Linked DNA regions of Homo sapiens. The protein of the gene in region 2 interacts with the protein of the main gene of each other region in a pairwise test. Each region holds a gene or a part of one and is shown on either strand. Other genes may lie near its edges.

Region 1 (7,734 bases), on a different chromosome or scaffold from region 2:
GCTGGTGAGCCACTCCACTTACCACTGGAACAGTAACTGGGGACGGTCCCCAGAAAGCCACAGGAAGACTTCTGCCAATCTTGTGGGCAGCCTGGGGAAGCCTCAGCTCTCACTCTGAAGATTTTGAATAAGTAAAATGATTTATGTTTCTCTGATTTATGGCAGCCATCCCATCACTTTGGATGGTTATCTAGGCTGTCCGGTGGAAGGTTCCCTCAGAATAGCCCTTGGCTCCTCTTAGGAACACACCCCATTGCCTTGCCTCAGGCTAGGACAGCCTCTTGCATAGGCAAGGCAGCTCTATAGGGCTCATGCAATTAGTTCTGCAGAAAGCAATTCAGGTAGAACCATCCCGAGAGGAAGGATGAGAGTTGTCGGTGTCACAGCTATTCCTCTGTCCCTCACTTGGATTCAGGCAGTACCTTCTCCCCAAGTTCCAGGAAATCATGAACACCAAGGAATCTGCCTTTGCTGGACTGGGCCTCAGCCAGAGATCAGGCCCAGCTAGAAGGTAGCAGGCATCCCTGAAGAGATGGTGGAATGGGGGTGGAAAACCAGTGTGAGACTGGATGTGCCCACTTCTAGCTGTGGAGCGACTCTGCTCCTCAGCTGGGGCATGGGAAACAGGTCTTGCAGGGCAGAGCAGGAACAGTTCTGGAGGAAAGGGGTCTTGTCCTGGGGCAGAACCCCTTGAGAAGCTTCACATTTATACATCTTTGAGTCTTTCTCCCAAATTGTTAACATGTTGCTGAGCAGAGAATCAGCAGTCAAAAACACATTGAAAGAGAAATGAGACTTTTATTAGCTCCAAGAGCATTTTTCAATACTAAGGCAAAAAGTAAAAAGAAGGACAAGGAAAACCAAGGCACAAAGAAGGGACCTAGGCGCACCCCAGAACTCACCACGGACACACAGCAGAGGGCTTCTCTTCATATCAAGGGTATGGGTAAACAAGAAAGGCTGCTGTTTCACTGAGACAGGACGAACCACCAAGTCCAAATGAGAAGACAAGCAGAGACGTAGTGTCAGACCAGGAGGGTTAGAACTTGCTAGTGTAGAGGGCAATAATCCACTTGGGCACACGGAGGAAGGAGGGCAGGTAGGAGGCCAGCCAGCCCAGGCCGGACACGTGTGAGAGAACAGAGCTCAAAGACAAATAGTCTTGGACGGGGCGGCCTGGGAACAACAGGAGGAGGAGGATTAGATTCTCATTTCCCACTCCTCAGATACCCTCACCTTGGCTGGAGAGACCGAGGGAGGAGTGGGCAGGGAACAGAGGGAACAGCAGTCAAGGCTGACTGCTGTGCCAGGGTCCTCACCGTCCACATCCCGAAGGCCATAGCGTCGAGCAAGGTCACAGGATGGCAGCACCTTACCACTCAGGCTCAGGATATTGGGATCTGCGGGCACACAGACAGGTGGAGATGGCAGGCAGGGGAGTATGCAGAGTGACAAGGTTTGGGCCCAGTTGGACAGGGCACTGCTGAGAGCCCTGGAGCTCAGGATCCCTGGAGAGCTCTTTCTCTTGGGCCTTGGACTTTTTCCACACTTCCCAGGAGCCTGCTCCTAAGGCTCTCAGACCTCAAACTGGGAATGCTGACCCCTTGGGCCTCAAAAAGCAGAGAAAAGAATGACATGTTCCTCAACCAACTCCCGAGCCAGATCTGGGCACTGGATGCTACCGCACTACACATCCTCCATGCCCTTTCTTATTACCAGCTGCCCCCAAACTTCACCTGTTGCCAAAGCCACCACACATTTGCCACTCAATTCTGTGGTTTCCGCAGATGAGAAGGCTGATTTGAACTGAAACACAGGGGCAGAGAAGTGAAGGGTTAATTTCCAAGAGCACTGCCCAGGTCTCCTCCCCATTTCAACTTCTGTTCCAGGAGAAAAAGACCAAAGACCAAAGAGGCCAAAGACCTCAAGCAGGGCCTGTAGGACCCAAAGTATTGGCAGGTGCCAGAGCCACTCCTCCCCACATCCAGGTGAGCCCTGTGCCCTGGCACCAGGATCTGCTGTCTTTGCTAAGTGGAAGGATCTGGTAGTGCCAAATAGTGTTTGGACCTTCTAAGCTAGCTGGTGTGGGGGTCAAGTGCATGGTCTTTGGAGCTAGACAGCCTTTCCACTTAGGACATATGTGACCTTCAACAAGTTTCTAAACCTCTCTGGGTTTCAGTTTTGCCATCTGTAGAATGGAGCTGGTATCTCCCTTACAGGATTAAAGGAAATAATGTGTGTCCCATGCTCAGCCCTGCACCTGCCACAGTAAGCACCTGGTGAGTGGGAGTATCTGATCTTGTTATTGAGGATGCAGAGGCCGACTCCCCTGTTCTCTGCTTCCTTCGCCCTCCCCTTGCCAACCTGCTTCAACACAGGATCCTGCAGGACCTCCTCCTTTGCCATATGCTCCTTCAGCAGTTCTGTCTGCACAATCCCCGGCCACAGAGACACACAGCTGACCCCATGGCGCCGCAGCTCGTGGGCACAGTCAGCAGCCAGCTTGTCACACTGTGGAGAGGCGGAAGGCAGGGTAAGAGCCACCTAGCCATGTCACTTTCCTGCCCTGCCCTCTCTGCTTCTACTGTGAATGCTCCACCCACCCTGTCCTTCCCAGGAGCCCCAAGGTCTCAGCTGCCCACGCTCCCCAGTGTGATGCCTACTCTAGCCAACCAAGAGGAGCACAAGCAAAGGAACTGTCCATGGATGAGGCAGAGGAGGAGCTGAGAGGAGCCAGCCTTACCATTCTGACCACTGGGGATTGTACCTCCTGAGCTATAGGTAACATCACTGTCTTTTACCTCCTCAGCTCCTATGCCACTGGGTCCTCACCGCAGCTTTGCCCACACCATAGGGGACATTGAACATATACTGCAGGCTTCCTGGGGAGGAGATGACCACGATGAGCCCCTGGCCAGCTGGTACCATCAGCCGTGCCCCATACACTGAGCAAAAGTAGTGGCCTCTAGAAGGTGGGGCAAGGGAAGAAGGAATGAACCGTGTTAGTGCTGGCCTGGGTGCCACAGCCTCTGGCGGCTTCCCCTGCCTTCTGGTGGTTGTTGTCCACTAGGAAGGCTACACAGGGTGGGTTAGCGACCTGAGGAATTAGGGGCTTGAGGCCATATTCTGAGAGGAAAACTGGTCAAAATAACCACTGACAGATGAGAAACAGCAATCTTTGGAAGAAGAAATGGAACGCAAGAGCCCTGTCACAATAACAATTACAAACAAAATTGTTCAGGGGGAGAAAACTTAAGAAATGTATAGTGTCTACATAGAAAAACTATAAAACCATGACAATAAGTACAGACAAAATCTTTCAAAGCTAAGAACTGACATGTAAATCATCATTTCTATGTAAATCAATCCATAGATTCAGTCAAATTGGATTATAGCTCAATAAGACCTTTTGGAGGAATTGATAAAATAATCTAAAGCTCAATGAGAAGAATAAACGTGAGAACAGCCAGAAAAGCTGGGCACGGTGGCTCACGCCTGCAATCCCAGCACTTTGGGAGGCGAGGGGGGCAGATCACTTGAGCTCAGGAGTTTGAGACCAGCCTGGCCAACGTGGTGAAAGCCCATCTGTACTAAAAATACAAAAATTAGCCAGGTGTGGTGGTACGTGCCTATAGTCCCAGCTACTCGGGAGCCTGAGGCAGGAGGATCTCTTGAGCCCAGGAGGCGGAGGTTGCAGTAAGCTGAGATTGTGCCACTGCACTCTAGCCTGGCTGACAGAGTGAGATTGTCTCAAAAATAAATAAATAAATAAAAAGAAAGAGAACAGCCAGGAAAATTCCGAAAAAAGGACTAAAAAGACTAATGTCTTGTGGGTGAGGGGGATTGCTTTCCCTACCCCTGCTGTCACCCATATTAAAATGCACAGGGGCCAGGCATGGTGGCTTATGCCTGTAATCCCAGCATTTTGGGAGGCTGAGATGGGAGAATTGCTTGAGGTCAGGAGTTTGAGACCAGCCTGGCCAACACAGCAAGACCCCGTCTCTAAAAAATAAAATAAAATAAATTAAAATGTACAAGACATAATAGTTAAAAGAATGCAATACAGGTGTTAACAGTAGACTGATAAGTCAATGAAACAAAACAGAGAATAATTAGATACAAGTGTATGTGAGAACGCAATGTATTACGAAAGGAACCTGTCAAATCAGTGGGGGAAAGTTGGATCATTTGGGACAACCGACCAGTTATTTGAGTTAGGGGAATTGGGTCTCTGCCTCGTTTATTATTTTAAAATTAAGCCTAAAAGGATCAAATATTTAAATATAAAAAACGAAAGCACAGAAGTACTGAAAGAAAACATGATCAAATGTGTTTATAAACTTGAGGGAAAAGGCTTTTATTAGCGTCACACCAAGACAGAAACTATAAAAGACTGACAGATTTGACGTAAAATTAAGATACACACACATACACACACAAATACAAAGATACATGTATATTTCTGTGTATATAAAGAGCAGGGCGAGGCTGAGTATGGTGGCTCATGCCTATAATCCCAACACTTTGGGAGGCTGAGGTGGGTAGATCACTTGAGATCAGGAGTTCGAGACCAGCCCAGCCAACACGGTGAAACCCCGTTCTCTACTAAAAATACAAAAATTAGCCAGGCGTGGTGGCAGGTGCCTGTAATCCCAGCTACTCGGGAGGTTGAGGTATGAGAATCGCTTGAACCCAGGAGGCAGAGGTTGCAGTGAGCTGAGATTGCACACTGCACTCTAGCCTGGGTGACAGAGCGAGATTCCACCTCAAAACAACAACAACAACAACAACAACAACAACAACAACAGACGAGTGGGGGGAGTATGCGTGTGAAAAATGAGTGATAAATTGGGAAAAATATTTGTAAAATAAATGCCAAAGTCATTTGTTTCACAGTGATCTCTTATAAATTAATGCGAAAGTCAAAGATGATTTACAAAAGAACAAAGAGCCAATAAACAAAGGGGAAAAAAAGTTCAACCTGACAAATAGTGGAAGAAGTATGAATTAAAACCCCTTTATATATTTTCGGCTTATTATAGTAACAAAGCTTGCCTGAGTGCATGAGCTGACGCTGCCTGGTGTGGTAGAGGACATGGGGAAACACATATTCCCCTTCATTGTCTTGATATAAAAAATTGGTAGGGTCTTTTTGTAGGAGAGCTTGATAATATTTATTAAATCTTTAAAAAGTACATATTCTTTGTTTTCTTTTCTTTTTTTCTATTTTTCCCACAGTCTCTATAACCTAAGGGAAGTACATATTCTTTGATCTAAGAATTCCACTGCTGCAACAAATAAGGGATTAGAGAAATAAATGATCATACATCCTCCCAATAGAATACGTACAAGTATTAAAAAGAATGAGAGATATTTACATGAAAAATCTGAAAGAATATATGCCAGGCTATTAATAGTAGCTATATATCAGGCAAGAGAGCAAGGGATGGCACTGAGGGGAATAAGATTATACTGGTCTTCAGATTTTTTCCATATTTAAAAAAAGTAACACACACATAACTTGGTAACCAGAATAAATTTCTTTTGCATAGGGAAAGAATTAGGACCTTCCAAATGAAAACAAGTAGAGTTATAGTTTTAAAGGAAAGTGCAGCCCAAGGTAATACAGAGGAAAGGCAGTAAATGCGCATGGGGAATGGGTGGGCAGGAGGTGCTGGGGGGCTGTCAGGGGCTCATCAAGGGGCCTTTACCTTGGATAATTCATCAGGGCCCAAGGTCGAGGGTCTGGGCCTCTGCCTTGAATCTCTGCTTCAGGGTCAAAACCCTGGCCAGCAAGAGATGAGGGTGTGGAAGGCACCTCTCTTTGGAGGCTATGGTCATGAACACTGGCCAATTTCCAGCTCTTAACGTGTCCCTTTCTTGCCTTTGGCCTCACCATCCTCCTCTGTCCTAATGATCTTCCTTCCACTTTGGAAATCACAATTGCATTCTAATCCTGCTTCCTTGGGATTGTTACCAGAGTACCAAAATTGGAGCGGTGGGTGTTCTTACATGCTTTAGTCACAGATTTGCCGATAATCTCGTGGTTACTCCCACAGGTGACTGATCACATCCATCAGGCATGACTTGATTATATGAGAGTGTAACATCATTCCAACAGTAACAGAGGCATAACTGGTGTGCATTATGCTAGGCGAATTCTAAATGCTGTGTTTCATCTCACTCCTGGGCTAAATGACCCTGTGTGACCCAGTGATGTACCTGCTCTCCCAACTCTGACCCGGCAGTGCCCTTGCCTGTGGGTGTGGAGTGAGGATGTGGAGACTAAACAGCATTGGTGTTCGCTCCTTCTTCTTAAGCTTCTCCCAGTCTAAAATAAAACAATTTCTCCCTCTAACCATTTTGAAAGTATAGACTACAGGCTGTGCGCATTACTGAGAGGAGGAGGCTTCCTCCCTTCTGGGTCTTGCATTTGGATGGGCAGAGAGTGAGACAGGAGAGAGGCCAAGGGCTTGTTCCAATGAAAATTACTGACAGAGTTGACATTCTCAGGTACAGACTCACCTGGATGGAACTTCTCCAGAGGTAAGTGGGACAAATGGAATGGAAGGGAGAAGAAAGAGATGGGGGAGGCCGGAGGGAAAAGGAGAGGGCATGTAAGGAAAGGCCTGGCCGTCGAGTTGGCTAAGTGAGTGAGGGAACATGGGTCCTGGCAGTGGAGCACCCACCTGAGTCCGACGTTGTTGATATCATCCCACATGGAGGCAGGGGTTTCCCAGAATGCCTTATTCCTGGTGTTCAGGATCGTCTGGAAGGCACAGGGAGGGTGATGAATGATCTGAAGGTAGGGAGGTGTGAGGGGCTGGGTAATGGAAGGGACAATGAGTGGGGATGAAGATGCAGGGGTCTGAGGGGGAGGTCAGAAATGTGGAGTTGGGAACAAAGTTCAAAGGGTACCTGGACCCCTGCATAAGCATTGTTGACCAGCACATCTAGACGCCCTTGCTGTTCCCGATCCACTTGCTCAAACAGGCTTCGCACTTCACTCTCCTGGCTTGAATCGCACACCACAGGCACACATTGGCCCCCGAGGGATTGTGCCTGGAGTAGGACAGGGGATATGAGCTCACATTCACACATGGGTGTGAGTCATGACAAAACTCCCCAACCAAAGTGGGCTTGAGAACTGAGAAGACAATCAATCCTAGGAGAGCCTGCTGCAGAGGCAACATGGCAGGCAACGCTGCCCTCTGGTGTCTGTTTGAGTAGTTTCAGGAATGATAGGCCTCCCCACCACAGAGCAAGGTGAATTGCAATGTAAGTTTTAATAATCTACAAACATTTACTGAGGCCCACCATGTGCACAGCATTGTACTTTGCAAGTAGAGGGTAAGAACAAGTGAGGCATGGAGTCTGCTCTTGAGAAATGAGTAAGCATCCTTTTCCTTGTTGTGGTCATTTCCATCTCTCATGCCCTTAGCTCCCACCCTACACTACTCACCTAAAACCTCTACTCAGTCCCAGTTGTCTTACCCTCACTCCACCAATGCTCCTGGTTGGTAATTGAAAAAACCAAAGCTATCAGCCATGAATGATTTCTACTTCCTGTTCTGTCTCACTCTCTACAAATGCCCACAAACCTCCAACTTCAGAGGAAGAAGAGTCCTTTATCTAAGAACAATCCTCCTATTCTCCAAATTTATGCTCTGGGTCCCCGCCTATTACCCTCCTTGCCTGAACTACTGCAATGCCTCCCAACGACTCACCTGACCT
Region 2 (8,051 bases):
AATTTTGTGAATAGGTGCTTTGAAATTATGTTCAATTAATATTATTTTTTCCCAAGAATGGGGTAGTTAAAATTTTTCTTATTCAACTTTAGCATCTAAGCATTCCTTGTTACGTATCTTTTTCTTTATTTTCCAATTCCAGGCTCACTAGAAGTTAATGGAAATAAAGTGAGAAAGAAACTAATGGCTCCAGACATTAGCCTGACACTGGATCCTAGTGATGGCTCTGTATTGTCAGATGATTTGGATGAAAGTGGGGAGATTGACTTAGATGGCTTAGACACACCGTCAGAGAATAGTAATGAGTTTGAGTGGGAAGGTAAATGTTTCACTGTTTTTAATCTGATCTTTATTAATGTACTAAGGGATTTTGTTTGAAATACATCATTCTTTCTAAAGTTCATATATTTGTTACTAAGATAGGAAATTGTGCTAACCCTTGAATATTCTCAAGGACTTAAAAAGTGTGTATAGAGTACACCAGTGGCTTTTTTCCCCTCTTATTTGCCCACTGCTCTCATGTTTTTTTCATAGCTGTTTCAAAAATATTTCTTGATAATTATGGCATGCTCTTTTTTAGTCAATCAAGTAAGAAACTTTTGAAGAGACATATAGTTAACAGTTTGTGGGAAGGGAGTTCTGAAAGGAGGCATTTGGGGTGACTTTTTAAGTAGGTTTGCCTGACATTGCTCTACTTTGTGAAATGACCAACTTAAATTAATGTATACTTTTAGCCCCCGAACCTAGTATTCCTTATTACTTGTAATTCAAAGGAATTGTGCTGTTTTACTTTGCATGCTTTCTTTAATTACAAAATTGTCTACAGTATCTTATATATAGTTGTTATAATTTTTACATATTTTTTTCCATCTTGAAAATGATTTTGTTTTCATAGTAGTGTTTAGCATTCAGTATTTTACTGTAATAAAGTGTGATATGCTATATTTTTGGTTTCTTTTTTCTTCCCTGTTTTACTGGTTCAATAAACAGTCCAGTAGTAAGCAATACTTTGTAAAGATACTGAAATAGTTTTGTGCCTATGTGTTTTGTCTCTTCTTTCTTTAATGCTGCTGTAGTCATTTCCTGGAAGGATATTTTCCGTTAACAGCTTTGTCTTGGAAACAACTAACATGCAGTAGGTTTCCCCCTCCCCCCATCTTTTGGTAAGGACTATAATACTGAAATTTTGAAAATTATTACTACATTGAAAATCAGCTAAACTGCAATCTCAAAACATAAATTACACTTAATCATTGGTGCTTATGCTTTGGCTAATGCTAATTTAAATAGACTTCTGCATGTATACTTCAAAGTATTATAAATACATTTCTGCTTTATAAAACTGATCAAATGAGAAGTGATCATTGAGTAGTTAACCACTTCCTATCTGGTATTACAGTTAATTTATGTGCTCAACAACAACAAAATTGGCTCCCAGATAGCTACTTGAAGTAACCTATAGTCATAACTGCCAGGGAGAATATTGTCACAAGTTGAATCTGGAAAGGCATTGTAAGGCCAGTGTACTAAGATTTTGATGACTCTACAAATTATATTTTCTGAACTTGTGGATACACGTTTCACTATGATTAGGTGGTTTTTGCTAAATTGGGCAATAAAAGTTAAAGAACCATGATTTCCAAAGACATAAAACAGCCTCATGTTAAGAATAAGCCTTTTCCTCCTTTATGGAAGAGAGATTGAAAATTGTGCAGATGGTATAATGAAAATTCTCTGTAAAATCTAGGTAGTAAAGTGGTTAACGTATAATTTGATTTTTGTTGTGTAACAATTTGTGATTCAAAAACTTTGTATTTTGACAGATGATCTTCCAAAACCCAAGACTACTGAAGTAATTAGGAAAGGCTCAATTACTGAATACACAGCAGCAGAGGAAAAAGAAGATGGACGACGCTGGCGTATGTTCAGGATTGGAGAACAGGACCACAGGGTTGATATGAAGGCAATTGAACCCTATAAAAAAGTTATCAGCCATGGGGGTAAGAGTTACTGAGGATTTTTCAGATTGTTTAATGCAATATCAGAATTCTTTTTTTTTTGGAAGGATATCTGTTTATTAAGAGTAAATAAGCCCTGTACAGAACACAGGCGCTAGGTTGAGAGACTCGTCTTTTGTAGGACATTTCTTCCTGCTAACCAGTTCCTGGAGGGCTTGTTTTTTTTGTAACTTTACACAAGGGGCACTAATGGAAAATATAGCTTTCTCAAGACATCTGATGTCAGTTTCCCATTGTTTTGCTTCACAAACATCAACAAAGTAAACCTGAACATGCTTAGCAATTTCCCAATGTTCTTTGCTGACATTACTTTTGACATACTGTGTCAAAATTCTTAAGGTCTCCCCTCCTTTGGTAAAGTAGGCAAAACCTTACAAGGAAAACACTATAATACGTGGAAATATACTGAGTTAGATTTCCAGTCACCTGCTCTATGGCTCTGAGATGCACTATATCCATAATGGTTCCTAGGACTGTGTCCACCTGATGGTTTGGAGTACGGAAAACCAACCCTTATGGCTTAAGAGTCATCTCCCATGGAAGACGATGCTGGCCTTCTGAACGCTGGGGCTCATGGGCTTGTTGATGTGGCTTTCTGGTGTGCCAGGATCCCCTGGCAGCTCCTGTATACTTCAGTCAAGCAGTCCAGCCGGGGCTTGGCACTCTGGAAGACGGGTACTACTTGGGATATCCCATGTGGTTCCACTGGATCCTTCAATAAGATGCAGAGGTAGTAAATCACCTTCTGCATGTAAATAGCCTCATTGATGACAATATCCTTGACCTTGCCCATTTCTATGAAGGTAGTGCTTTCTTAGCCTGAAGCATAAGATGAAGTCATCTGAATGCCAAGGGAATCAATGATTAACAGTCTCCTGATCAATCTTCACAAAATGGAGATAACCAAGCAGACCTAAGAGGGTGATGAAGATGGCAGCAGAGAGGATCATGCTGTTCTCGCAGAGGGTGAAGAGTCCGTAGGCTGCCAGCCACACCGTGCAGGTGACAGCGGTGAGCGAACGCAGCGAGAGCCCAGGGCAGCTGAGGCAGAATTCCCGGCAGGAAGGGAAGTAGTAGCGGCGCTGCAGGGCCAGGCGGCCACCGCAGATATCCGAAAAGCTCCGCTCATCCTCCATGACACCCCAACTCTGCCGCCCGCACCGCACCGCGCGGCACTCCACTGCGCTCGCCTGCCCTAGCCGTTTCATGCAATATCAGAATTCTAAATACTTTTAGAAACTCTGCCTAGAGATATTATGTAATTTTGAAAGAATAATAAGCATTTCTCATTCATTTTAGAAACATGACAGGTTTAAAGTAAAAGAATAAAAGTACCATTTAAAAATGATTATATGCATACAGTAAGTTGAAAAAGTACAAAAGAATTTGTAGTGAAAACTGTCAGGTTGGGCACGGTGGCTCAGGTTTGTAATCCCAGCAATTTGGGAGGCTGAGGCAGGAGGATTACTTGAGCCCAGGAGTTCAGGACCAGCTTGGGCAACATAGACCTCGTCTCCACAAAAAAATAAAAAAAATAAAAAAATAAATAAAATTAGCCAGGAGTGGTGGCATATGCCTGTAGTCCCAGCTACTTAGGAGGCTGGGGTGGGAGGAGAGAGAGCTTGAGCTTGGGAAGATGAGGCTTCAGTGGCCGTGATCATCCCACTGCACTCTAGTTTTTTGTTTTGTTTTGGTTTTTGACCCTGTCTCAAAATTAAAAAATTTTTTAAACTGTCTCTAGGCTACCCAAAACTGGGACTGAACAGTCTCCCTAATTTATAAACAGTGAAATGCTCTGATCTTAAGTGTGCAGTTCAATGAGTTTTGACAAATGCCTATATAACCATATATACCCATATATATAAAACCCATACCCCTAAAAATGTAGAACATTTTCATTGTCCCAGAAGAATTATTTAGTACCCCTGTGCAATGAATACTCAGCTTCGGTAGCCACTGTCATATCTACCCCCTGATTAGTTTTGCCTCTTCTAGAATTTCATATATAGTAACTAAAATCATCCTATGCACTCTTTTGTTTACTTTTCAGCATGAAGTTTTTGAGATTCATCCATGTTGTTGCACGTATCCACAGTACATTCCTTCTTATTGCTGAGTAGTTTTCCATTGCTTGGATAAACCATAATTTGCTTATCCGTTTTTTTTTATGTGCATGTGAGTTGTTTCCAGCTTGGGCTGTTATAAACAAAACTGCTTTGAACATTCTTGTAGAAGTCATTTATGGATATAAGTAAAACTTGGACTCTTTTTGTTTTGTTTTGTTTTGAGACAGAGTCTTGCTCTGTCACCCAGGCTGGAGTGCAGTGGCGTGACAGCTCACTGCAACCTCTGCCTCCTCGGTTCAAGGGATTCTCCTGCCTCAGTCTCCCGAGTAGCTGGGATTACAGGTGCACGCCACCATGCCCAGCTAATTTTTTGTATTTTTAGTAGAGAAAGGGTTTCACCATGTTAGCCAGGATGGTCTCGATCACCTGACCTCGTGATTTGCTCACCCCAGCCTCCTGAAGTGCTGGGATTACAGGCATGAGCCACCGTGCCCGGCCCTAAAACTTGGACTTTTTAACCTTAACTCTTAATTTGCCTTAAAACCGTGAACAAATTTTTTTTTCTTTTTTTTTTTTTTGAGATGGAGTCTCATTCTGTCACCCAGGCTGGAGTGCAGTGGCGCAATCTCGGCTCACTGCAACCTCTGCCTCCCAGGCTCAAGCGATACGCCAGCCTCAGCCTCCCAAGTAGGTGGGACTACAGGTGCACGCCACCACGCCTGGCTAATTTTTGTATTTTTAGTAGAGACGGGGTTTCACCATATTGGCCAGGCTGGTCTCGAACTCCTGACCTTGTGATCTGCCCGCCTCAGCCTCCCAAAGTGCTGGGATTACAGGCATGAGCCACAGTGCCCAGGCCAAATTATTTTTTAATAGAGAACTAGTTCACTCCACACTTCTATACAGCACCCACTTTCCATACTTATGGGATATACAAAAATACAAGGCTTAAGTCCCTGCCCTTAAGAAATAGGAAAAGCCATAAAAGTTTAAGTTATAAATCCTTTCAATCTAACAGTACCATATATAGAAGTTAACCTAGGCACATTGTAAATAGTGCTAGAATGTTAGTGGTAAGTCAGAACACAACTCACTGTAGAGCATGTCATACTACCTTAAATCCTCCTAACACAGGACGGAGGGCATATGGGTCAAGCAGATTGATTTTTTTTCAGGGTCATTTCCACTTGATTTACTCTCTGCCAGATGCATTCCCCTGCTTATTTCTACAGTCTTCATTCATCTGAAAGCAAATCACATGAATATTTGTAGTTGCATTCTTCTGCCTAATTTAATCGTACTCAGATGAAGAAAATGGCGTAATCTGCATCAGGAAGTCCACAGACATACATTATTCAGCTAGTTCACAGGAATCAAATTATAAGACCTGATTTATGGCTTAAATCTCTTATCTTTCAGAAATAGCACTTTTTTTATAGGGGAAAATAAGACCACCTTATTTTATTGCATTACCACACTTAATATATTTTGTGACTGAGTGATTAAGAAAGGTAGTGAAGATTCTGATGTTCTTGAAATGTTCAAATCTTTTCATGTGCAAATTTGTAAGCAATAGAAATGAAGGTTAAAGCAGAAGTATTTGCTACTAAATATTGGCTTAATATCTAAAGACTGCTGTTGAAACATACATATTTTAGCGCTGTTTTCCATTACTGAAAATTATGTCAGAGATGTAATTTAGTTTGTTTTTTTGTTTTTGTTTTTGTTTTTTTTTTGAGACCCAAGTCTTGCTCTGTTGCCCAGGCTGGAGTGCAGTGGTGCAGTCTCGACTCACTGCAACCTCCGCCTCCCAGGTTTGAATGATTGTCCTGCCTCAGCCTCCTGAGTAGCTGGGACTACAGGTGCACACCACCACACCCAGCTAATTGTTTATATCTTTAGTAGAGATGGGGTTTCGCCATGTTGGCCAGGCTGGTCTCAAAATTCCTGGCCTTAAGTGATCTGCCCACCTCAGCCTCCCGAAGTGCTGGAATTACAAGCATGAGCCACCTCGCCCGGCCTAATTTAGTTTTAATGTCCTAATTTCTACAAAATGCTAGCATTTTTAAATATAAACTTACCTTTTAAAAATCACCCACTTATGGCTCTGGCGATGTGGCTCATGCCCAGTGCTTTGGGAGGCCAAAGGAGGAGGATTGCTTAAGGCCAGGAGTTCACGACCAGTCTGAGCAACACAGTGAAACCCTATCTCTACAAAAAAAATTTTATAAAGGTTAACCAGGCATGTTTGTGTGCGCTGTATCCCCAGCTCCTCTGGAGGCTATGAGGTGGGAAGATCCCTTGAGCCCAGAAGTTCAAGGCTGCATGAGCTGTGATTGCGCCACTGCACTCCATCCTGGGCAATGGAGCAAGATGCTATCCTCTAAAAAAAAATTTAAAAAAGCACCCACTTTGCCGGGCACGGTGGCTCACGCCTGTAATCCCAGCACTGTGGGAGGCTGAGGCAGGCAGATCACGAGGTCAGGAGTTCGAGACCAGTCTGGCCAACTTAGTGAAACCCCATCTCTACTAAAAATACACAAAAAATTAGCCGGGCACGGTGGTGTGCGCTTATAATCCCAGCTACTCGGGAGGCAGGAGAATCGCGTGAAGCCAGGAGGCGGAGGTTGCAGTGAGCCGAGATTGTGCCACTGCCCTCCAGCCTGGACGACAGAACGAGACTCCATCTAAAAAAAAAAAAAAAGCACCCACTTTAACCATAAGCATCATAGAAATAAATAAAAATACATTGCAGTTATTGTATTGTGTCTGTATTGTATTGGGTTATATCACTATATTTGTCTACCTGCTAAAATAGGGCTGGCTTTTTAAATATGCGAATTTAAGTGGTCTTGGGTTTTTTTGTTTTTTCTGTCCACCGTCCTCTTTAAATTTTACTGTTCTCTTTTTGGGAAGAAGACATTAAAATTCTATATAAGACCATATAAGATTTACAAAACATACATTTAATACAGAAATCTGTGAAAAGTAAACTCTTATTTATAATTTACTAATCATACAGATGTCTTCTAAAAATGCCTAAGAGTAAAATCGTGCTGGTGATACTGTCTTTGGTTTCTTTTTTAGGATATTATGGGGATGGATTAAATGCCATTGTTGTGTTTGCTGTCTGTTTCATGCCTGAAAGTAGTCAGCCTAACTATAGATACCTGATGGACAATCTTTTTAAGTAAGTATATATTAAACAAAAACATTTGGACAGAATTGTGAGCTAATTAGATCTACACCTTAAGAAACTTAACCTTTTCAAAAATTATAAATATTCCAGTTCTTTGGGAGACTGAAGTGGGCAGATCACTTGAGTCCAGGAGTTGGAGACCAGCCTAGGCGATATGACAAAGCTCTTTCTCTACAAAATCAAAAAATTAGCCAGGCATGGTAGTATGGGCCTGTAGCCCCACCTACTCAGGAGGCTGAGGTGGAAGTATCACCTGAGCCCATGAGGTCAAAGCTGCAGTGAACTGTGATTTTGCCACTGCACTCTACCCTGGGTGACAGAGTAAGACCCTGTCTCAGAAAAATAAATATCCCAGATCTTTTCACGTGCAAGTTTGTGAACAACAGAATGAAGGTTAAAGTAAAAGTATTTGTTACTAGATACAGGACTAGATGAGTCCTTATTCTTTGATATTATGGAACGATAGTTTTCCAATTCAAGAGAAAAATTGTCATTTTAAAACTGGGAAATATATCTCAGATTATTTGTTCCAACTTTGTTTCGTTTTGTTTTGAGATGGAGTTTCACTCTGTCACCCAGGCTGGAGTGCAGTGGTACAACTACGGCTCCCTGCAGCCTTGACCTCACGGGCTCAAGCCATCCTCCTACCTCAGCCTCCCTAGTGGCTGGGACTGCAGGCACATGTCACCACATCCTGCTGACTTCTTAATTTTTGGTAGAGACAGAGTCTCACTATGTTGCCAGGGTTGGTCTCAAACTCCTGGGCTC
Region 3 (7,774 bases), on a different chromosome or scaffold from region 2:
ATTTTTGGTGTTTTGTTCTAATTGCTAATCTCTATTTTCTGACTCTTCTGTAATTACATGCATTGCCAAGCAATGAAAAAATAATACTAAAAGTAGTTAAGATAGCATGATACTTAATAAAGAAATCCAATTATGGCACTTCCTCATACTATATTATAATTTAAGCATGGGGTTGCAGCATACCTAAGTGTCTGATTCTTCTTATGTATCTACTTACAAGATGCAGCCTGCATTGTGGTCAAAACTTCACGTTCTGGTCTTGGGGGAGCTGGGTTACATCTCGGCTCTGCCACTAAGCTGAGTGACTTTAGCCAGCCTTCGCAGCCTCTAGATCTGTCTTCATCTGAGTAATGGGGATGGTAGTGATCATACTAAGCTTATGGCTTGGTTGCTGGTTACATAACACGTGGAAATACAGAATAAACTGCTTGGCATGGTGCCTAACAGTACTGTGTTCAATACATGGGGACCGTTACTACTCAATCAGATGTCCTAGGCTTTCTTCAGGGGCCAGCAGATGATGTGAACGCGAACAGGAACCCCTGCCGAAGCCCAAAGGACTCCTCCAGGCATTGACAGCTATGCTGTGCATCTTGCCTGGATGTTTTTTCAGAGGAGGGTGCAGGCAAGAGCAAAAGCAGCAGTCCCAGGCTATTCAACTTCCACAAAGCCTCCTTATCTCCGGTTGGGAAGTACAGTTGCTGATTAACTGTGTTAACACAGCACAGTGCTCAGAAGGCCAAAGGTCAAAGACTAAGGTCTGAAGCCCCACAAGGAGGAAATATCCCTCCTCGTCATTACTGGGGGGAAAAAAATTACCCTTGTAAGCCACTTAGAAGGGAGCACCTTTATTTGGAAAACAGTAATTTCAAAATCATCTCCCGAACTCAGAATCGATGGGTCTGGGTAGATACCCTAAGTAAACAGGTGAAATCTTCATTACTTGTTCACTTATTAAGTAAAATTTTAAATTAACCGATTATGTACAGGAGTGTTTTTCACATTTCCTGATAAGAATCACTTGGAATGCCCTGTAAACACAGCTTCACTGGAGATTAATCCTATCAAATTGATTCAGCAAGTCCGAGATGGGCCAGTAATTTGTGGAGATTTTTATTTTTACAAATGCTTCCTGATGATGACCAAATCTAAGAAAATTTGGTAAACAACGGAAAGTTATCTGGAACATAACTTTCAGTTTTCTCTGCAGTTTTTAAGTGCTGAACTACTGATCATCCTAGAGATAACCCACTGAAAAGTCTTCTCTAATCCAGTTTTACAAAAGGAAAGTCTTTTTAACATTTGGTTTGATAAAATGTTTTCCGAAGAAATACTTTACTTGCCTGTTTTCATTTCTGGCCCACCCGTTCTACTTCACGTTTTCTTGAAGGGTTCATCTTCTATGAGTTGAGGCATAGCAATCTAATCATTTTTAAAATAAATGGTTTCTTTTTTTTTTTTTTTTTTTGAGACGGAGTCTCGCTGTTGCCCAGGAGTACAGTGGCGCAATCTCAGCTCACTGTAAGCTCCGCCTCCCGGGTTCAATTGATTCTCCTGCCTCAGCCTCCAGAGTAGCTGGGACTACAGGCGCCCGCCACCACGCCCGGCTAATTTTTTGTATTTTTAGTAGAGACGGGGTTTCACCCTGTTAGCCAAGATGGTCTGGATCTCCTGACGTCGTGAGCCGCCCGCCTCGGCCTCCCAAAGTGCTGCGATTACAGGCGTGAGCCACCGCGTCCGGCCAATAAATGGTTTCTAATTAAAGGATTGTGACATTTAATAGCCGTTGCTTGCTCTTGTCTTGCTCCCTTCTCTCTCGAAACTTGTTAAGAAATAACTCAATATTCTGGCTTTTCCACTTTAAATGTCATACTGACCAGCCCGTGTATGCCAGCCTCGATCTCATCGTTTTCTTTAACCGGTCCAACTCCCTTTGGCGTCCCAGTCAAGATAATATCTCCTTCTTCCAAGGTTATGATCTTAGAAACATAGCTGATGATGTAGGGGATGGAAAAAATCATGGAGGATGTCTCACCCTCCTGTCTGAGTTCGCCGTTGACCTTGAGCCAGAGCTTCAGCTTGTGAGGGTCAGGGATCTTCTCCTTGGGCACGAACGCGCTGACCGGGCAGGACGCCGTGAAGCTCTTCGCCAGAGTCCAGGGCAGCCCCTTCTTCTTGCACTCGTCCTGCACGTCCCGGGCGGTCATATCCAGGCACAGGGCATAGCCGCCCACGTAGTCCATGGCCGCAGCCTCGGGGACTGCGCGGCAGCGCTTGCCCATCACCACGCCCAGCTCCAGCTCGTGGTGCAGGTTGCGAGTGTACGCGGGCATGAGGATGGGCGAGCCCTCGGGCGCGTAGGCCGTGGACGGCTTCAGGAACAGCACGGGCTCGCTCAACACCGCGCTGCGCATCTCCCTGACGTGGTCCGCGTAGTTCCTCCCCACGCAGACGATGTTCTTTCCCCACTCCCAGAAGCGGGACAATGGCCTGGATGCTGCCATGATTCCCATCAAGTGCCCCTGTAGTCACGTGGGCTGGGCCGGTCAGCTGATGCCTACGGCATCCCGGAGAGGACCAACTGCCTCGGAACGCTGTCCCCCGCAGCGACGGCCCGTTCCACCTCGCGATCTGCCGGGTACCCGGGCGGCGTGGCGCTCGGCCTCCAGGGATCCACTGTGCGGTGCCAAAAAAGAGGCGGAGGCTCGCGGCACAGCTCTCCCGGCGCAGCTCTCGGGCCGCCGCCGCCGCTCCCAGGCCCGTCTCCCGGCCCGTGGCAGTCGGGGCTCGCGGACAAAACAAGTTGAGCGCGAGCGCGTTGATTGGTTGGCGGACGGTGCGAGGTGGACGCTGATTGGCTGAGGGCAGCGCGAGGCGGGCGCTGATTGGCTGCGACGCGCCGACGCCGGTGTTTTGCAGTCCTGGGCAGCTCGGCAGTCCAGCCCGGCCCGGGTCATGGTGGTGGGCCGAGGGCTGCTCGGCCGCCGCAGCCTCGCCGCGCTGGGAGCCGCCTGCGCCCGCCGAGGCCTCGGTGGGTGCGGCGGGGCGGTGCGGGCCGGGGGACGCGGGCCTGGCGGGGCGGGCAGCGGGCGGCGCCGGGCCGTCGTTTGGCGACCGCTGACGCGGTGTCTGTTGCGCAGGTGCCTAAGGCCGCGCTGCCGGGCTCGAGCGGAGGCGGCGCAGGCGCTGAGGCTGGCGCGGAGCGGGCGCGGGGCCGCGGGTGCGGAAAGCGCTAGGTAAGCAGGGCCAGGCCTGCGTCCGCCGCGGCCTCCACGCTCGGGCTGGGCCGGCCGCGCCCCTGACGCCTCCAGGGCATCGCGTCCTGCCCGGGCCGGCGCCGAGGAGAGCCTGGGGCGCGGCTCTGAGGCGCAGCGGGCAGGGCCCCGGGACGCCTGGCCCACCCCGCACCTGCTGCCCCGCTGCAAGGACCGCGGTCTCGCGGCGCCGCCTGCGGTGGTGGAGCTGCCCGCCCGGCGCCGGAGCCCCCGTCTGGGGACCCGGCGTGTCATTCGCCCGAGGTGGTCGCGCGGCCGGGCCAGGCCAGCGCCCCGGGCGGGTGCGCAGCGCAGGGCACTGGGCGGGCGGAGGCGCAGACAGGGAGGCGTCCCTGGCGGTTTCCAGATCTCGCCGAAAGCTGTCAAGGCTCTGCAGGGGGTAGAATGTCGCCATTGCTAAGGAAAGGACATGGATTTTGAGGTCCTCAGAATTACAGTTTTAGGGACATTCATAAGGGTCCAGGCAGAGAGTTCCAGCGGGACTGTGTGCATCGGCAGGGCGTGCGTACCCCATTCTAAGGGAGGCCCCAGCCCCCGTATTTGGTGCCGCCCAGTTCAAGGGAAGCAAGATGCTGTGAAACTTCCTGATTTAAAAAAGAAGTGCAGTGACGCACGCCTGTCATCCCAGCACTTTGGGAGGCCGAGGCGGGAGGATCGCTTGAGTCCAGGAGTTCCAGACCAGCCTGGCAACATGTTGAGACCTCATCGCTACAAAAACTAAACAAAATCAGCCGGGCGTGGTGGCACACAACTGTAGTCTCAGTCACTTTGGAGGCTGAGGTGGGAGGATCGCTTGAGTCCAGGAGGTCGAGGCTGCAGTGACCCTTGATCGCACCACTGCACTGTAGCCTAGGGGACAGAGTGAGACCATATCTCAATTTTTTTTTGTTTTTGGGGCCAAACCGAACATGTTTCTGGACTTGGTCCAGGCCCCAGGCTGCAGGTCCTTGACCTGTTTGTACAAAGTATTACAGTTACAAAACAGCAAGCCGGGAACATTTGCCAGGCAGTGCTGGGCTGAGTGATATGGAAAGGGAATACGGTTTCTGCTGGTGTTGGCACCAGCTGCGTCTTTCCTCAGAAATAAAGGCACCTCCCTGGGTTGTCAGCTTCTTCAGGAGGCTGTGATGGTCTCCAGGGGAGGCTGAGCACCAGTTGTAAATGACATTTTCTTCGCCTGGGCAGTGCAGTGGCCAATCTCGGCTCACTGCAACCTCTGCCTCCCGGGCTCAAGCGAGTCTCCTGCCTCAGCCTCCTGAGTAGCTGGGACTACAGGCGCTCGCCACCACGCCCAGCTAATTTTTGTATTTTTTAGTAGAGACAGGGTTTCACCATATTGGTCAGGCTGGTCTCGAACTCCTGACCCCGCGATCCGCCCGCCTCGGCCTCCCAAAGTGCTGGGATGACAGGCGTGAGCCACCGCACGTGGGCAGTATTTTTGTTTGTAATGTTCTGCTCCTTGTTTGTAATGGAGCTCCTTTCCAGGAGGACGCCCGGCACTCGGAATCCTGTCACAACCCTTCTGCACCCCACCTGCAGCCCCCAGCACCCACACTCTGCTTGTTGTGCTCCTTGGGCTGGGGTGGTGCTGAGGCTAAGGGGAAGGGGAATAACACAGGAAGCTGCTCATATAGAAATCTTGGTATTATTGTTCCTGAGGAGAATGATCTGGAAAATGCCCAGCTGGTTGTCAGGCGGGTAATAGGATATCTTTGTGCAGTGATTGAAACTATAGTTTGGGCAGTTTCCCCGGCTGTGGAAATAAGGTCGGATTCCGCATTTCGGTGGGCCCTGGAGACGCGTGTGTCTGTCAGTTGGTGGCTGCTGCCCATTTCTGGATCCCTTTTGGGAGAAGCCCCTGCCGTGGCACCTACCCCAGGACTGCACTGTCCTCTGCCACCTTCTGTGGTTTCTTCCCCGTGTAGAGCGGAACTGAAGGTATTGTCGGGGCCCCCAGGTATTTTTAGATTTAGTAGGAGTTTCATTGCTGAAAATATTTTTGCATTGGTCGACTGGGTGGCAGACACTTTTGTCCCTTGGTCACCCACTCCTCCCAGCTCTTGGGCCTTCTGGGCCCCTGTGGCAGAGTCCTTTGGGTCAGTTGGATGGTGGTTTTGTGTCCTCCACACTTGAATCTGGGGGCAGTTGTGGCCAACTTTCCGTCTCAAAGGAACTGCTGATTTTTGTGCATATCTCAGATTCGTGCTGTTCAAGAGCAAGTATTGTTTGTTTGTTTTTTTTTTTTTTTGAGACTGTCTCACTCTGTTGCCCAGGCTGGAGTGCAGTAGGGCGATCTTGGCTCACTGAAACTTTCACCTCCCGGATTCAAGCAATTCTCCTGCCTCAGCCTGCCGTCAAGTATTGGTTCTTTCTGGCTAGAGGCTGAGAAGGGCTGTAACTGCATGGAACGCAGGCTCGCTTAGTCAGTGGTGGCAGCACAGCTTGCTGGAGGGCAGATGGCCAGGCGGGGGCACCCCTAGTCTGTGTTCCCTTCTTCACATTCTGTCCCTGAGTCCGGGGTGTGAATAATCCAGCACTGGCAGTGGTTCGCCTCACAATCACAAGCTGGCCTTCCTGTCCTTTTAGAGTTCTCAAAAAAGAAAATAGAGATCGTAAGTCTGAAACAATTGATTTCCATGAATGTGAGCATGAGTTAGTTCCTGTGTTCTCCTCAGGGATATATGAAGATATTCCTTTTTTTTTTTTTTTTTTTTTTTTTTTTTAAGGAACAGGTTATTGTCTTGTCACCCAGGCTGGAGTGCAGTGGCACAGTCATAGCTCACTGCAGCCTCAAACTCCTGGGCTCAAGTGATCCTCCTGCCTCAGCCTCCGGAGTAGCTGGGACCACAGGCATGCACCACCATGCCTGGCTAATTTTTAAATTTGCAAAGACAAGGTCTTGGCTGGTCGCGGTGGCTCACACCTGTCATCCCAGCACTTTGGGAGGCCGAGGTGGGCGGATCACAAGGTCAGGAGATCGAGACCATCCTGGCTAACACCATGAAACCCGTCTCTACTAAAAAATACAAAAAATTAGCCGGGTATGGTGGCGGGCGTCTGTAGTCCCAGCTACTCAGGAGGCTGAGACAGGAGAACGGCGTGAACCTGGGAGGCGGAGCTTGCAGTGAGCCGAGATCGCGCCACTGCACTCCAGCCTGGGCGACAGAGCGAGACTCCGTCTCAAAAAAAAAAGAAAAAAAAAAAGACAAGGTCTTGCTATGTTGCCCAGGCTGGTCTCAAACTCCTGCCCTCAAGCAGTCCTCCCATCTCAGTCTCTTAAAGCGCTGGGATTCCCGGCAAGAACCACCATACCTGGCCAGAATATTCCTTTTCAAAGGAACCTAGAAAGGCTGGGAAGCACTGCAGCTTGCGCGTCCTGTCGTGGAGGGCCTGGCGCGGCTGCCCGCTGAGTTGTGCTCTGTGTCTGCAGGTCCAGCCCTGCTGGGAGTTTTCTGCCACACAGATTTGCGGAAGAACCTGACCGTGGACGAGGGCACCATGAAGGTAGAGGTGCTGCCTGCCCTGACCGACAACTACATGTACCTGGTCATTGATGATGAGACCAAGGAGGCTGCCATTGTGGATCCGGTGCAGCCCCAGAAGGTGCGCATGGCTGTGCCTGGCTCTCCCTGCCCTGGTCACCCAGCTCGGAGTCCTCACCCCCGATGGGTTTCCTAACCGCAGTGTCCTTGCAACTTTGCCTAAGCTAAATGGAAATTAGTCTCCGGCCACTCTGTTAACAGGGCTCCAAGAAGGGTGGAGGCGAGAGGCAGTGACACAGAAAGCGCTGTGCAGTACAATCCTGGGCACTTGAGTCTTCTTGGGGGCTTTCTGCCCCTGCATGCTGCCTCTGGGGGTGGTGCCCTCAGAGCTGGAGGGGCTTGGAGCGGTCGTAGGTGGTTGCAAGAGTGTCAGGCTGAGCAGGAAGGAGAAGGTGCTTTCACTGGCTCTCCTGGAGCAGGGCAAGCTGGCAGGGTCAGGACGGGCCATGTCAGCGGCCCCTCATGGCGTGTCCTGGGTTCTGCTGGGCACCCTACCATATAGGCCAGCAAGCCAGGCCTAGGAGTGTGACAGGCCTTTGTCCTTCCCCGGGGCCACTGCAGGTCGTGGACGCGGCGAGAAAGCACGGGGTGAAACTGACCACAGTGCTCACCACCCACCACCACTGGTAAGTGCCGCGTCTCACCTGGGGGTGTGGGACCTGGCTCACTTCTCGCCCCGGTGGGTTTAGGGACATCAAGGCCTGTCTCCCCCCACGGCTCTGTCTGCTTTGTGAGGACAAGCCCCCAGCAGACTTCTGAGAAAGACCCGGGACTCACCGTAGCCCCCAAGGGGCAAGTCTGGTGCTCAGTGACTCTGAGGCCCCGAGGGTGAGGGGAGAAGGTTACAGCCTTACCCTCAGGCCCCACCCCCCGGCTCTCTCCTGGGCCATGCGGGTTTGTGCCCTGGCACGTTGGCCTCAATGTTGGGGAGGAAATGAGTCTACAGGTGAGTGGTTT
Region 4 (8,051 bases), on a different chromosome or scaffold from region 2:
TTTCACTCCAGCTGTTCACTGACACACTCTAATATAAGAGGCTTGTTGACAAAATGTCATGCCAATCAACTTGGCTTTTGCAAACTGCTTTGGGAATTGCTACAAACTACCCACTCCAGCAATTCAACAGTATGGCAAAATGACTAAGCTTGGGTATTGGAACCCCTCCTTGAAATGGAAATGATACAAGAAAATTAAACGTACAAATACACCCTTTGATGTACCTACTTAATATTAACAAACAGCACTTAATTAAACCACAGGAAAATACCACAAGTTATCCTCTACAAATAGAGAAACTATCATTCAATTCAATCCTACTTCAACTCAGTGCTGGACAAATGACAATTTTAACCCAACCAACTTAGAAAGTTCCCATGATTCTAATAATAAGGGATTCTAATAAGTAAGGGAGAATTCGCCTTCTTTGCCTATCTTTAAACTGAGACAATGCCTTCAGACTCAGACCAGACTATACCATTCATTCTCCTGGACTGTCAGAGCTTGCCAACTTGTCAGATCTTGGACTTCTCAGCATTCATAATCTCATGAGCCAATCCCTTATAATAAACATATACACACACACACACAAACACGCACATACAAATCATATACCTGTATATAAATGAAGCTATCTCCACATGTATTATAAGGAATATATGTCTATATATCTAGAGCTATATCTATACATACACACACACACGCACACATATATATATATATATATATGTAATTGGTTCTGTTTTTCTATAGAACTCAGACTAATACAGACCCCCTCAAGAACAGAATGTAAAAAATTAAATTTTTATCCCCAGAGCATTTAAAGTAAAAGAGAAAAATGAGATAATACTAAAATCAAAAGAATGCTACAACTCAAAGAGTCACTAGGGTAGGTTACTCCGATGTTGCATTTACAAACAAAAGCATGGTATTTTTTAAAAAATACTGTGTTTGCTATAAATAACTACTTTTATGTGAGTAAAACAGGGCAACTGTTGGCAAACTCTTTCTATAAAAGGGCCAGATGGTAAATATTTTTAGGCTTTATGGACCATACAATCTCTACTGCAATTACGCCACTCTGCAGTTGTAGCTAGAAAGCAACCATAGCCAACATGTGAACGAATGAGTCTAATTATATTCTAATAAAGCTTTCTTTATAGACACTGAAATTTAAATTTCATAAAATGTTCATGTGTCACAAAATTATTCTTTTGATTTTTTTTCAACCCACTTAAAAATGTGAAAACCAGTTTTGGCTTGTGGGCCATACAGGCCTAGGGGTTGTACTTTGTCAACCCCTAATAAAAAGAAATAAAAATATAAAATTTAAAAATAAAGGAATAAACATCTTTCCCAACCAGGCTCTAACAGTCCAACTTTTTTTGCTGGGCTACGTGTAGGACATACAACTTCCACATGGCTTTGACAGGTCCTCTTAGAAGTACTACTACAGATGTAGGACAGATGAAACAATCCTAATTTCTGTGCTCCACACGTGTTCATCAAACATTTTCATAATCTGCTCTCCACAGAAAGAAGCATAATTCCATGAGAAACAACAGAATGGATCCTCTTCAAAAGGAAGAAAAAAGTCCTTCCCATCCTGTAGATGAAGCTATCCATCTATAGCAAAGGTGGAAACAAATCTAGATGCTGTTATGTTTCCAAACCAATCCCAGGAAATGTAAAGAAACCAATAAAAATTAATCTCACTATATTACACTTCAGTAACTATAAAAATTATGTTCTTGGGAAAAAACTTACATTACTATTTCCTTTATGTGGGTGTTTATATGGGATTATTTTTATGATAGGTTTAAAAAAAGAGTGAAGTAAATGTGCATCTAATGCTTAACAAACTTCTAAAATTCCAAATATTTAGCTTTAAAAAACCTTGTCTTTAATAACAAGTTATTACTATTGCACATGCAGACGGCTGTCAAGTACCCTGTCTCCCCTGAATGCAACTATACACACATCTTTGCAAAGCTGGCTACATTTTTGAAATAACAAAATGGAAAGGAATAAGATGACTGCATTCATTTGAAAAAATATTAACATTTAAAAACTCAGTAGGATATCTGAGCTGCTATCATTGTGTTAGAAATATTGTAAATTTAACAAAATTTGGTGTTTTTAACACTAAAGGCTTGAAAGAAAAATCTAGTTACTAACTTGAGAAAGTATTTAATACTAGCAGGATACCGAATCCTAGAAGGTACACTCTTTTAAAAGAAACCACCATTTTAACACACACACACACACACACACACACTCACACACTCCTGTTGTACAGCTTCAGAGGTGGGTATGACTTGATCACAAATAAAGGGAGATTTTTACATGACTACCAGCAACTAGAAAAGTATCCCAGATTTTTAAAGAATCAAGCTAAACTCACATTTTGAAAAGGGAAAAAAAGGAACAAAAACAAAATTGGGGGTGTGGGGAGAGGTGATCCATATGAATTCTATAATACTAGGAATGACAAATTTTTCAAAAGATCACCAATGATTATGATGTAAATGTATCCACTCCTTCTGCAAAGTGTCCCCCAAAAAGCAACAGACCAAAAACTTATAAACAATGGGTCAAGTGAACCAATAAGAGTTTTAAAATAAATGTTTAATGTTCTATTGAAAATCTTGGGAAAAGAATACAGATGATCTATGCCTAGATTTTTGACAGTTTTCTGAATCAACATCATCTGGCTTTTCTTATTTTCTTAAGTAGCATCATATTGAAATTACATTTAAAAGAGAACATCTAAATGTGGCTAAGAAACAGAAATAGAATTAGAAGTATACTATGGAAAAGCACAAATGAGCCAGAAAGTGTTTTTAAATTTCCCCTAGAATGTTAACCAATGCCAGATATGAAGCAAATTGGGATTATACTAGGCAAGTTCAGCTTTCCTCCACAATCCACCATAAACTGCTCTACCTTGTTTTTCATTTGGCGCTCCTGACAGTGAATGGAGAAAAACACTTCGGAAAACTTCTATCTACAGCAATTTAGATAAAACTCCATTCTTCTAAGAATGAAATTGGTAAAATATAATACCTGCTTCTCCCTCCACTTAAAAACAGGTTAGCAAAAGTGCTCAGCTAAATCATGAAAGTGCCCCATCTAGGCCAACTTTTACCCAAAGACTTAGTGTAGGGAGAGGCAGCCAAGCCTGACAGGCCATACACACTACATTCTGAGAACATAAGTATTCCAACATGATTCATCTCAATGTTAAGAATTTCATAGTACAACCCCCTTAAATCAATGTGAATTAGCTAAAGAGACCTACAGTTATTCTTTTCAGAAATCTGGTATTTAGTGGATCAACAAGTATTTAACCATGTCTTCCAAAAACACTTCAAGGAGCTAAAAACTAAATGGATCTGAGCTCTTCTGCTCCTCTATACCCAAATATAACATGGCTAGGCAACTTTTTCCTAAAAAAGATATTTTGTTTTCCAAGCTACTACTACTGAAGGAAGCACCTTAAGCAGGTGGGGTTGCTCTTCACTGAATTCTCATTAATGGGGAAAGATTTGTTCTAACCTACAGATAAGCCCTCATTCAGTACCCAATATGCCACTACAGCATTTCTGAGTTGGCAGCCAGAGTTCAGGTTTACACTGACACAGATTTGGTGTTTACCCCAAATATTGCCATTACATCCTACCACTACTCAGTACAAGATGCTATGCGGCTGGTATATATGTGTATAATCACCTAGCTGGCATTAATGAGGGCTGTGGACTCTCTAACAGGAAAGTGGCAAAAAAAAAAAAAGGTAGACATCAAATGATTATGCCACACCTTACTATTTCAGTGGACTATAATTACAAAACAGGAATCACTGAAGTACAAGGAGGATAGAAATCAGACTTCTGAACTGAGCCAGCAACATCTAAATGACTGGAAATGAGTAGGATGAAATTAATATGGGGCCAAACTGGAGTCTATTACACCCCCATATACACCTAAGTTGCATTTTAAAACAAAGTCATCAGTACAATTTTCATTACAAATAGATGTCAACTAAGGACACCTTATATAAACTCCTCATTGCAATCAAATAATTTATATGGTAAAAGATCTGAAGAACTGTTGCTTTGTAATTTTTTAAAATCTCATATCTGCTATGCTTCATAATAACCTGTTAAGATAATAAGAGGAACCTCTGGTTGCCAGGCACTTAATACCCTATTTATTTTAACTAAACTCATTTTGCATCTTGCTTCCCTCATTTTAACTAAACTCAGGATAAGGCTTACAACCACATTTTTATTTCTTAGTAGTGAAACCACCATTGCAAAATTATAACTGAAATGGTGAAAAAGATCTGACCTAACCAACTCCATCTTGCTTCTAACCTCCAGGTTGTCCTTGTTCATTCCTGGGCATAGGCCATAACTTTGGGAGGAACTTAGTTTATAGTTTAAAACAAAGATGGTAACAGCCCTTTCCCAAAACAAACCTCCTTCTTGCCTGGGGACTAGACTGCCTTTGTAGGACTAACAAATTAGCCACAAGATTGGAAATTAGGGCTTAGGAGTCATGCAGCTGAAAGCTACCAGATTCTGACCCTTACCATCTGTGGCGTCATAGATTCAATGAAACATCATATGTTCTTTGAACCTCTTACTACAGGGTTACCTATAGCATGCACACCAGAATTACTAGTGTGTTTTTTAAAATGCAAACTCCTGAGCCAACTGCATACCTGGAGAATCAGAATCCCTAGGAGTGGGATTAAAGCTCTTGCATGTTTAATAAGCTCCCCAGATGACTGTCATTCGTGCTCAGATCTGAGAGCTTCAGATCTACAGCACACCAATCCACACACACAGGAAAGGCTGTGTGGGGCGGGGGGGGGGGGGGGGGGGAAGGTAAGGCAGATCTAAACCAAAAAAGTTCAAAAGTAAAATTCACATGACAAGATTTTTCATTCTTTCTGGAACAGTCAACCTGCCACCAGAATGGGTCTTCAGTTTTGGTGGGCAACAGATAAATCCAGAGAAAATGTGGTGAGGAATAAATAATCAAGAACTCCTGTTTGCAGGGGTTAAACCAGAGTACTAGATTTAATATTACTCAAATGTTTTCTTGCAGTTTTTATTATCTACCAAAGCAGAATTTTGCTTAAAAAGTTATAATCCACTTAACGAAATGAAATGGTGACTGGATTTCTGCAACCAAGACCACAAACATACCCAAAACAGAAAACAAGACAGAACTCTACAAAATGACATTCAGTTTTGCCTGCTATGAGTTCTACAATTGTTTAAACACTTGTGATCTAAGCTACCTTAATCCTATAGTACACCATCCAGGGAGAGATGGATAGATGAATGAATGGATGGACAGAAAGAAATAGCTATTCTTAGAAACAATGACAACAATAAAATGAAATATATTAACTGTTAGAGGTTGAACATAAATGGGGTAATGAAGTGTCCCACTCATAAACTGCTAAAATGAGATTAGAGAAAGGTACACATTTACATACAGTAGAACTGCTATCTTCATCTCATGTAACTATCTCACATTGTACTAGATGAGAAGTTATAGGTTCCTGTTCTACGTGTTTAAGAATTCCCTTAGGTATCCACTCTACTTATGCTGTTTTGAAGTAGTCTGCAGAATTTAAGTGCACCAGGGTAGACATAATTCCATCAGTCACACCCTCCAAATGAAGACATGGAGAAACAGAATGGTTCCATCGCCCAAGGGTCCTGGATGAAATGCAGTATTGGCACACCATTTGTACCACAAAAACTGAATGAGAATTAGCACTGCTGAAGTAAATTAAAATGGAAACCATGCCTGAAGAATCCCCGAGCAGACAAAACCAATTAGGCCTCATAAGTGACATCAACCTCACTTGATTTGCAAACATAAGCAAAATATGAAGTTACTTCTTATAAATGCCTATGCTAAAGAAAAAGAGAACTTAAGCTTAATCAATCAGAAACATCCAACAAACTTCTAATTACATATCTAGGGGACCTTCCAACACGACAGACCAAATAAAACAACTGTATAACTGCAGCCAATCAAATATTTTCTTTGCTTTACATCTGTGACCCTCCTATAAAAGCCTCCCTCCTGGATTCCCCTGGTGGAGCTCCCAGATCTGGTTTGGAGCTGCTCAATTCATGAATTGTTTGTTCAAATAAACTCTAAAGATGCTTCTATTGTAAAATTTTGTGAAAACGTATTGTATTAGTCCGTTTTTGCACTGTTATAAAGAAATACCCAAGACTGGGTAACCTATAAAGGAAAGAAGTTTAACTGACTCACAGTCCCACATGGCTGGGGAGGTGTCAGGAAACTTACAATCATGGAGGAAGGCTAAGGGGAAACAGACACCTTTTTCACAAGGCAGCAGGAGAGAGAAGAGAGAGAGTGCAGGAAAAACTTCCATTTGTAAAACCATCAGATCTTGTAAGAACTCACTGTCACGAGAACAACATGGGGGAAGCCGCCCTCATGATGCAATCACTTCCCTCCCTCGACACACAGGGATTACAATTTGAGATGAGATTTGAGTGGGGACGCAGAACCAAACCACACCACGTATCAACTGAACCAACTTAAAAATCCATTTTTGTTGACCTTGCGTCTTTCAAAACTCATTTAACAATCACTTAACTGCAAGTAATGAATGATATGTTAGGTAGCACACCTGACACCATAACACTACCTTAGCAAGCCTTGTAGAGATTATGACGAAAATCAATTTAGAGATGTTCATATAACTTTCTGAATAGCACACAAAAATTTAACAAATGAATAAACAAAATGCAGTACGTATCAACGAAATGATATATATGTAATGTGGTGTATATGAATGGAATATAGAATGGAATATTACTCACCCTTAAAAAGGAATGAAGTACTGATACCTGCTGATTTAGAGGACGAACCTCTAAAACATGCTAAGTGAAAGAAGCCAGACACAAAAGAACACATATTGAATTATTCAATTTTTAGGAAAATCCAGAATAGATAAATTTATGGGGGCAGAAAGCAGATCAGTGGTTGCCGAGGATTGGCAGGGAGAAGGGAATGAACAACTGCTTAATGAATATGGGGTTTCCTTTTGGGGTGATGAAAATGTTTTAGAAACGTGACGGTTCATAACATCATGAACGTGCTAAATGCCACACTTTAAAATGGAAAATCTGGCTAGGCATAGGGGCTCATGTCTGTAATCCCAGAGCTTTGGGAGGCTGAGGTCGAAGGATCACCTGAGGGCAGATTTGGCCAGCCTGTGCAAAATAGTAAGATCCCGTCTTTTAAGAAAAAAAATTATAAAATTAGTCGTGTGTGGTGGCACATGCCTGTAAACCTAGCTACTCCACAGGCTAAGGTGGAGTTCAAGGCTACAGTGAGTTATGATCACACCACTGCACTCCAGTCTGCAGAACAGTGGGGTACCCTGTCTTTGTAAATAATTTAAAAATAAAATGAAAAATTCTGTTACAGGAATTTAATTTAAAAAAGAAAATTGGAAGAAAAAACTCACTGAAGTTAGAAAAATCATGAATAGCGGATTTTCAAAATTAGATTAAAAATAAGGGAAATATAAGAATAGCTTCAATCAAATGGAGCAGGCCAATGAAGAAGAAAAAGAATATTAATGGGTACACTGGAAAGACTTAGGGGTATTACAACACTTAATTTCCTCCTCTGAGAGGAAGTCAGCCGATTGTGTCTCAAAGAATTGCATTAAAAGAAAGTACAAAACCTTTTAAAAGTTCAAAGATTTTGGGAAATTACCTGGTTCAGTCTACTCAATCAGATTAAAAAGGACTGCATGATATTAAGTAATTTAGTCAATGCCACTCTTGAAATAACTAAATACAGAATCAATGCTTCAAATCCTGATCATCTGATCCCAAGAACAGAGACGCTTCTGGACTAAATTCAAGACAAACTTTTGCTATTATACCAAGGTCGCACAAAAATCTATCTAGCTCAGCGCTAACATAAAAATCTTTTGCTATTTGGGTCTTGCACCTTTCAGCTTTAAGAAATGGGCA

Evidence for each region.
Region 1: the proteins of BNIP2 (region 2) and DHRS1 interact in binary tests that used the Homo sapiens proteins (3 or more experiments, as listed by UniProt).
Region 3: the proteins of BNIP2 (region 2) and FAHD1 interact in binary tests that used the Homo sapiens proteins (3 or more experiments, as listed by UniProt).
Region 4: the proteins of BNIP2 (region 2) and FAM3C interact in binary tests that used the Homo sapiens proteins (3 or more experiments, as listed by UniProt).

Annotation. Positions count from the first base shown.
Region 1 is NC_000014.9:24,289,820-24,297,553, forward strand, and holds the end of DHRS1 (dehydrogenase/reductase SDR family member 1), read right to left. Parts: intron 7,063-7,734; coding exon 6,919-7,062; intron 6,770-6,918; coding exon 6,690-6,769; intron 2,966-6,689; coding exon 2,833-2,965; intron 2,782-2,832; exon of another isoform or gene 2,512-2,781; coding exon 2,365-2,511; exon of another isoform or gene 2,220-2,364; intron 1,807-2,219; coding exon 1,737-1,806; intron 1,401-1,736; coding exon 1,320-1,400; intron 1,177-1,319; coding exon 1,040-1,176; 3' UTR 779-1,039; downstream 1-778. UniProt on the Homo sapiens protein: NADPH-dependent oxidoreductase which catalyzes the reduction of steroids (estrone, androstene-3,17-dione and cortisone) as well as prostaglandin E1, isatin and xenobiotics in vitro. May have a role in steroid and/or xenobiotic metabolism.
Region 2 is NC_000015.10:59,671,860-59,679,910, reverse strand, and holds part of BNIP2 (BCL2/adenovirus E1B 19 kDa protein-interacting protein 2), read left to right. Parts: intron 1-142; coding exon 143-319; intron 320-1,823; coding exon 1,824-2,000; intron 2,001-7,171; coding exon 7,172-7,274; intron 7,275-8,051.
Region 3 is NC_000016.10:1,821,969-1,829,742, reverse strand, and holds FAHD1 (oxaloacetate tautomerase FAHD1, mitochondrial), read right to left. Parts: upstream 2,538-7,774; 5' UTR 2,514-2,537; coding exon of another isoform or gene 2,505-2,513; coding exon 1,839-2,504; 3' UTR 833-1,838; downstream 1-832. Other genes in the region: HAGH (hydroxyacylglutathione hydrolase, mitochondrial isoform 1 precursor), read left to right, coding at 2,956-3,031, 6,706-6,878, 7,379-7,443. UniProt on the Homo sapiens protein: Tautomerase that converts enol-oxaloacetate, a strong inhibitor of succinate dehydrogenase, to the physiological keto form of oxaloacetate. It is thereby required to maximize aerobic respiration efficiency by preventing succinate dehydrogenase inhibition.
Region 4 is NC_000007.14:121,385,984-121,394,034, forward strand, and holds part of FAM3C (protein FAM3C precursor), read right to left. Parts: intron 6,945-8,051; exon of another isoform or gene 6,885-6,944; intron 5,379-6,884; exon of another isoform or gene 1-5,378. UniProt on the Homo sapiens protein: May be involved in retinal laminar formation. Promotes epithelial to mesenchymal transition.